2 separate regions of the Homo sapiens genome follow, and region 2 is linked to region 1. The links come from fine-mapping of genetic effects on gene expression. A gene starts in region 1. The other region holds a variant in brackets. All regions are shown on one strand. Distances are between the middles of the regions. Region 1 holds the start of KPNA1 (karyopherin subunit alpha 1). Region 2 overlaps KPNA1 (karyopherin subunit alpha 1).

Evidence for each region. PIP is the estimated chance that this variant, and not a neighbour inherited with it, causes the effect. A credible set is the group of variants that fine-mapping cannot tell apart.
Region 2: its variant is the best candidate, but not a certain one, in a credible set for the expression of KPNA1 in whole blood (INTERVAL, PIP 0.59).

Annotation. Positions count from the first base shown.
Region 1 is chr3:122,513,260-122,516,176 of GRCh38, reverse strand. It overlaps KPNA1 (karyopherin subunit alpha 1), which reads left to right and starts at 1,238. Exons shown (of 14, transcript NM_002264.4): 1 at 1,238-1,420. It overlaps LOC107984000 (a long non-coding RNA gene), which reads right to left and starts at 1,148. Exons shown (of 2, transcript XR_924403.3): 1 at 1,049-1,148. RefSeq lists a silencer at 1,271-1,960.
Region 2 is chr3:122,423,229-122,426,145 of GRCh38, reverse strand. KPNA1 (karyopherin subunit alpha 1) reads left to right here. Exons shown (of 14, transcript NM_002264.4): 14 at 1-2,917. All of the region lies in intron 1 of WDR5B-DT (WDR5B divergent transcript), which reads right to left. Among named protein-coding and RNA genes, the nearest start is that of WDR5B-DT, 8.5 kb to the right of the region's middle. The variant TC/C (reference allele first, on the strand shown) is at 1,655.

The sequences.
Region 1 (2,917 bases):
GTGGTCAGGCAAACTTGCCCTTAAGTCTCTCCTGTTGAACACACCTTCCCTTTCCCCAGCCCCCTTGCTCAAACTCAACTCTGATCTTAGTAAACACAACATCAGCGGGAGAATGCTGATGCAGCAGAGAGAAGTCCAGGACAAATGAACATTGCATAACCTAGGATTCAGGTAGAGTGGTCCTCTCTCCTCTCCTCTTCCCTGGGACATTTATAAATGTATTAATCTACCTCATCTCTTTCACCTTGCTTCTTGGCATGTGTTTTAAATCTGTCTACTATTCCGTGATCCCTGCTAGGCTGGCTTCAGTTTTTCTTCTTTTGAAGCCACTACTCCATTTGCTCCCCCAAAGAATTCCATGAAATTTAACATTAGCAATCATTTGCTCCAAGTTTTCGTTTGAGAGCAGTTGAGAGTAAAACGAGTATGTGTTTCATGTAGTTTCATTATTATTATTATTATTATTGTTATTATTATTTTTGAGGCAGGGTCTCACTCCGGTTGCCCAGGCTGGAGTGTAGTGGCGCGATCTCGGCTCACTGCAGTCTCACCGTCAACCCCGGGCTCAGGTGATTCTCCCACCTCAGCCTCCCGAGTAGCTGGGACTTCAGGCGCCCGTCACCACCCCCTGCTAATTTTTGTGTTTTTAGTAGAGACGGGGTTTCGCCATGTTGCCCAGGCTAGTCTCAAAACTCCTAGCCTCAAGTGATCCACCCACCTCGGCCTCCCAAGGTGCTGGGATTACAGGTGTGAGCCACCGCGCCCGGCCCTTAATTATTTTTGATACTACGCATACGTTATCAAGCAAAGGGGATGGGAGATAACTAAAAAAGGAATGTCCAGAAGCTTCCTGCATTCATGCTGCATGTGAGCCCTTTAGACACGAGGCGCTGACCTACTAATTTTGTAATACTCCCTCAGCCTTCAATCATTCCATCATTCATTCCATCAACGCGTATTAGGTACTTAGAAGCTATACAGAGGTGAGCATCGATCCGCCCTGGAAGAGCTTAGCAAAGACAGGTTTGTACATATAACTTTCTCCAACCTTTGCCATGGTCTGCAAACCTCCTTCTTAGCGAGACCCCCTCCCCGACCCCCGACTCTTCACAGGCTGGGCGCTAACCATTAGGAATGTCCGGCGAGAGAGCGTTACAAGACTACGTCTCCCGGCAGCCTCTGCGACAAGCGCCGGAGGGGCGCGCGTAGGCGCTCGGGCCGGCCCCCGCACGCAGGCGCACTGCGAACGCCGGCTGAGCTGAGTCTCGCTGCTCGGTGCGAGGCGGCGGAGAGCGAGGCCTGGTGAGCACCGCCGAGGCGCGGGCCAGCTCTTCGAGGTTGTGCGCGGGAGTGGCACGGCGGGCGGGCGAGCGAGGGGCTAACTTCAGCGGTGGCACCGGGATCGGTTGCCTTGAGCCTGGTGAGTGCTGGGGCCTTGCGGCCCCGGCCCCTCCCCCTCCCGCCGGCAGATCCGGGCAGTCCCGGAGGGACTCAGGAGAGGCCCTGGGGCGAGGGCGGGTGCCGGCAGGGCCTAGAGCCGGGGTTCCTGGGCCGGACGCTCGCGCCGCGTCCGTGCGTCACGGGCCCGGCTGTCCTAACGGCCACAAGGCCGGCGGAGGAGAGGGTGGGGGTGGGGAGCCCTGGTGTGATCGCCATCGGGAACGCCGGTCGAGGCTAGGCGGGGCGGGGCGGCGTGGCGCGGCGGCGGGGCTGTAAGCGGCGCCGGGGACTGCGGGGCGCCGAGGCAGCGGGCGGAGAGGAGGCGAGCGCGGAGCCTGCGCCGCGGCCGGGCGGCGGGCGGGAGGCGGGGGTGGGCCGCGCAGAGCGCTGTGACAGAGGCAGGAAGGAGCAGGGGTGGCGTGTAAAAATTCTAACCCTGGCAAAAAGGGACCGTCTTGGGAATTCACAAGTTACAGACCGGGTCGGAGCCGGCGGCCCGGAGGGAGGTGGGGGAAGCGGGGGGTGGAGACGGCCGGCTGCAGTTTACCGATGTCATAACAACATGGGCCTGGAGCGGCTGATCGGGGGTGTGGTAATTATAGCAATGACAGAACTTGGTCTGCACGCCGCGTGTGCGATGCGAGGGAAGCAGCGAGGTATCGGATTAAGCTCAAAACGGGAGGAGGAAACAAGGATGACTGGAGTCAAGGAAGTCGTCATGAAGTAATGTTTTAGGATTGGGTCGTGTTCCACTTTTAAATGAAAGCGTTCAAAATATTTGATTTTTAAGGTTTCAACTCAGAACAAACGATTGCCGAGTTTTTGTTTGTATTTTAAAGAGATGGGGTCTCGCTATATTGCCCAGGCTGTACTCCAACTCCTGAGCTCAAACTGTCCTCTTGCCTCAGCTTCCCAAGTAGCTGGGACTAGTCTTGGGCAACCACACCCAGCTCTGCAGAGTATTTTTTTTTCTGAAACGTACTGTCAAGTAATATTAACTTGAATTTCACCCTTTTTTCTTAAATAAACGGTTGCTTAAAAATCTCTATTAGTAGATGAAGTGATTTCCCCCCTCCTGTTTTGTTTTTTTTTTTCTTAAGAGATGGAGTCTTGCTTTGTTTCCCGGGCTGATCTGGAACTCCTGGCCTCAAGGCATCCTCCCTACTAGCTGGAACTACAGGCGGATGCCACCAGCAAGGCTCATTCTCGACATTGTTTTTGTCTTAACTAGCTTTTGCATTTGTAATATTTTGAAAGCAGTACACAAGTTATTTTTCCCTCCTTTTTAAAGATCAAAGAGATGAAAATTTAATTTTTCAAAGGAAAGTAAGAATGAGTTCTGTTGTATTTTTACTGAAATATTCTTGGAAGACACTGTTTTATGGATAGATGAGACGTAAGAGAAAGTAAAGGAATTAACATTTATTGAGTTCTTTTTTCAGGTATTGTGTTAAATGCTTTACATATATTAAAAACA
Region 2 (2,917 bases), 90 kb after region 1:
CGAAAACCATATCCTGTAATTTAATAAAAAAAACTAAGGACGAAAAAACCCTCCAATTTTCCCAAATGCAATCAGTGTAACTAGGGGCTGTGTTTCTGCATTAAAATAAATGTTTCAGGCTTTGTGGTCCTGATCAAGGTCCTCATTAAAAAATTGGAGTTCACCCTAGGTGCTTTTCCCCTCTGTGACTGGCAGATAACACATACTTTTGAAAGTAACTTTGGGATTTTTTTCTTAGGTGCAGCTCGATTCTAATCTTTTCATGCTGCACACGATTCCTTTAATGTAGCATCCTTATCTGAAAGAAATAACCATCTTCTCAACATGACCTGCTTAACCCAAATAAGAACAGTGATCTTATAACCTCATTGTTTCCTAATCATTTTATTTCATCTCCTGCTAGTACTGTGCCGCTTCCCCCTCCCCCCACACAAAATAAAAACAGTATCTGCCTTCTGGCTCATTTAATGATGACTGCAATCTGTACCTGCAAATGGCGCTTCCAGTACTGTGTTCAGTGATCCACATTTGTGCTTGGACTGGAATGAAAAAATACGCTTAATTGCCAAGACAACTGCAAATGAGTTCAATACGACTTCTCGGTGCTAGTTGGCCATCTTGACTCAATGTTGGGATACACTACCAGAGAAGATTTTTTTGTTGATGTGCTGTTCAAAGTGAATTCTGAAGGAAAAGGTTGCTCACCTCTGTTTCAGAGCATACCCTTTTAAACCTTTTTAGACTTGTCCTCTTCTAGAATTCATTATAACCCCAAAGTGTAAAAACTATTTGGAAGTTGCCCCTGACAAGCTATTATACATCTCTGGTAAATCCTGCTGAATGTAAGGGATATTCAGAGCTTTTCATACCTCATCATGATGTTATTTAAGCAGCCAACTTATGTGACCTGATTTAAACTTTTAAAAAATCCACTTCATTCAAACTAGAAAGAGTCAAAGACAAAGGACATTTATCAGCCAAGAGTGTGACGCATTCTTCGCATCTAGTCTGTAGTAGTGTCTGTGCTCTGGGATGGATACCGTCTGATGTCTGTTTGTTATTGATGGCGCAGCCACTGCAAAACTAGTCAACTCCCATCTATAACTGTTACTTTTTCTAGTGCTGCTTTGTGCTGAGAGAACATTTTAGTTTACTGCACTTGACCTGTAAAAGACTGATTCTTTGTAATTTTAGGGATAAATTAGGTGGTTAATTTAAAGAAGAAATTTCAATGTTGCCTTTACATCACATTAAAATATAACTTCTTTCAGAAGGATAATAGAAGCACTGATTCATAGTAAAAATCTTGTTTTTAGCTTTGACTTTTTTGTGGCTGTTTTTTAAAATTGTAAATTACTAGTAACATGTCATTTCTATAGGATGTTTTAAATTATGTACCTTCCATTGGATAGTTAAAATAATTTCATTTTATAAGCCAATTTGAGTGGGAAAGATACAAAGCACACAGTTGTCTCCCCACATTAGGAAGAGTAGTGTGCATTCAGACATTCGGAATTTTTGCTAGTAGTTGGAGATGTTTCAGTGAGTGAATTAAAACAAAGTCTATTTAACTGACGTGATCTATTTTGTGTCTAAAACAGAGGAATTTATCTTGTCCTAGAAGTTCATGAACTATAAGATCTAAGTTTTTTTT[TC/C]TTTTTTAACAATAAAATGATTTTTTCTTAAAGTATCAAAGTTGGAATTGGCTAAAAGTGAAGTAGCATAACTCAGATATGTTGGAACTTGGTACTGAAGCAGGCTTTTTGGTAACAGAAATGACATTTTAAGGGGTAACTGTATATCCTGTTTTTAGTTCTTTGCCTCTCAGATTCTGTTAACTTAGTTTAAATTCACTGAATACCCTACCACTAAGGCGTTGCTCATTACAAAAGCATGTTAATTTCAATACAGGAAAACTCTTTTGTAGTTTTATATATGGATTGGGGAAAGTGACTTTGTTTTACTTTTCCTTTTTATTCCCCTCCATCCTCCAAACTTCCAATCTATATTATTTGTAATGAGAACTTTGGTGGGGGAAAAAAAGCATTAAGAGAATTTTGGATGTAAAGGCATCTGGTATCTGATGGACCAGCAGGTAGATGTGGTTGGATTGAGAAATTTTGGGTAAGGTAGATGATAGAAGAAAGAGATTTTAGGAGACACAGTTCTCTGTGGAACACTTTCTTTCATGTTCCTGTAACTAATTGATCAAGACCCTTTTAAACGCTTATCTTTGTCAGTTCCGCTTTTGAAAAAACTATTGCCCTAGGATTGTTTCTTCCATATGACAGATGAAGGTTATTGGCTCTGAGTCATTTTTGGCATTATCGTCACAGATAAAAAGATTGGCAATTAATCTCATAAAAAATCTGAATTATTCCAGATTGCTGCCGATTTTTGCCTAAGAAACAATATGTAAGTATATTTTATAAACCAAACTTTGTCAACCAATTCTATTGTACGTCTACCCACAGGCAACTTTGAATTTACTTCTCTAGTGCTAAATAAACATTTCAGCGATTTAATCCCCCAACTTGGGGGATGCATTATGAAAAGGTTTTCCTGGAGTCAAGGGGTTTTTCTTTCTCGCTAGTTTTGTGAAAATTTTTATATCAATAGGCAAATCATTATAACTTTTTAGGGGTTGATGGTTTTTAAGTATATTGGAAATTGTGGTGTCTAAGGATGATGTTCAGTGAAGAAAAGGGATCCACTTTTAGAAACCAGCATTGTTTGCTTTCAACTTTCATACTGTATGCTAACTCCTACGTTCCAAAATGTGCTCATTTGCAGACACAGGTATGCCTATATACATGGAAGTCTCAAATCTGAATTTTTATCCATCTCAATATGACCATTTCTCTCTGTTGTGAGCTGAACAGATTAAGTATATATCTGCCAGGTTGGGAAATATTTT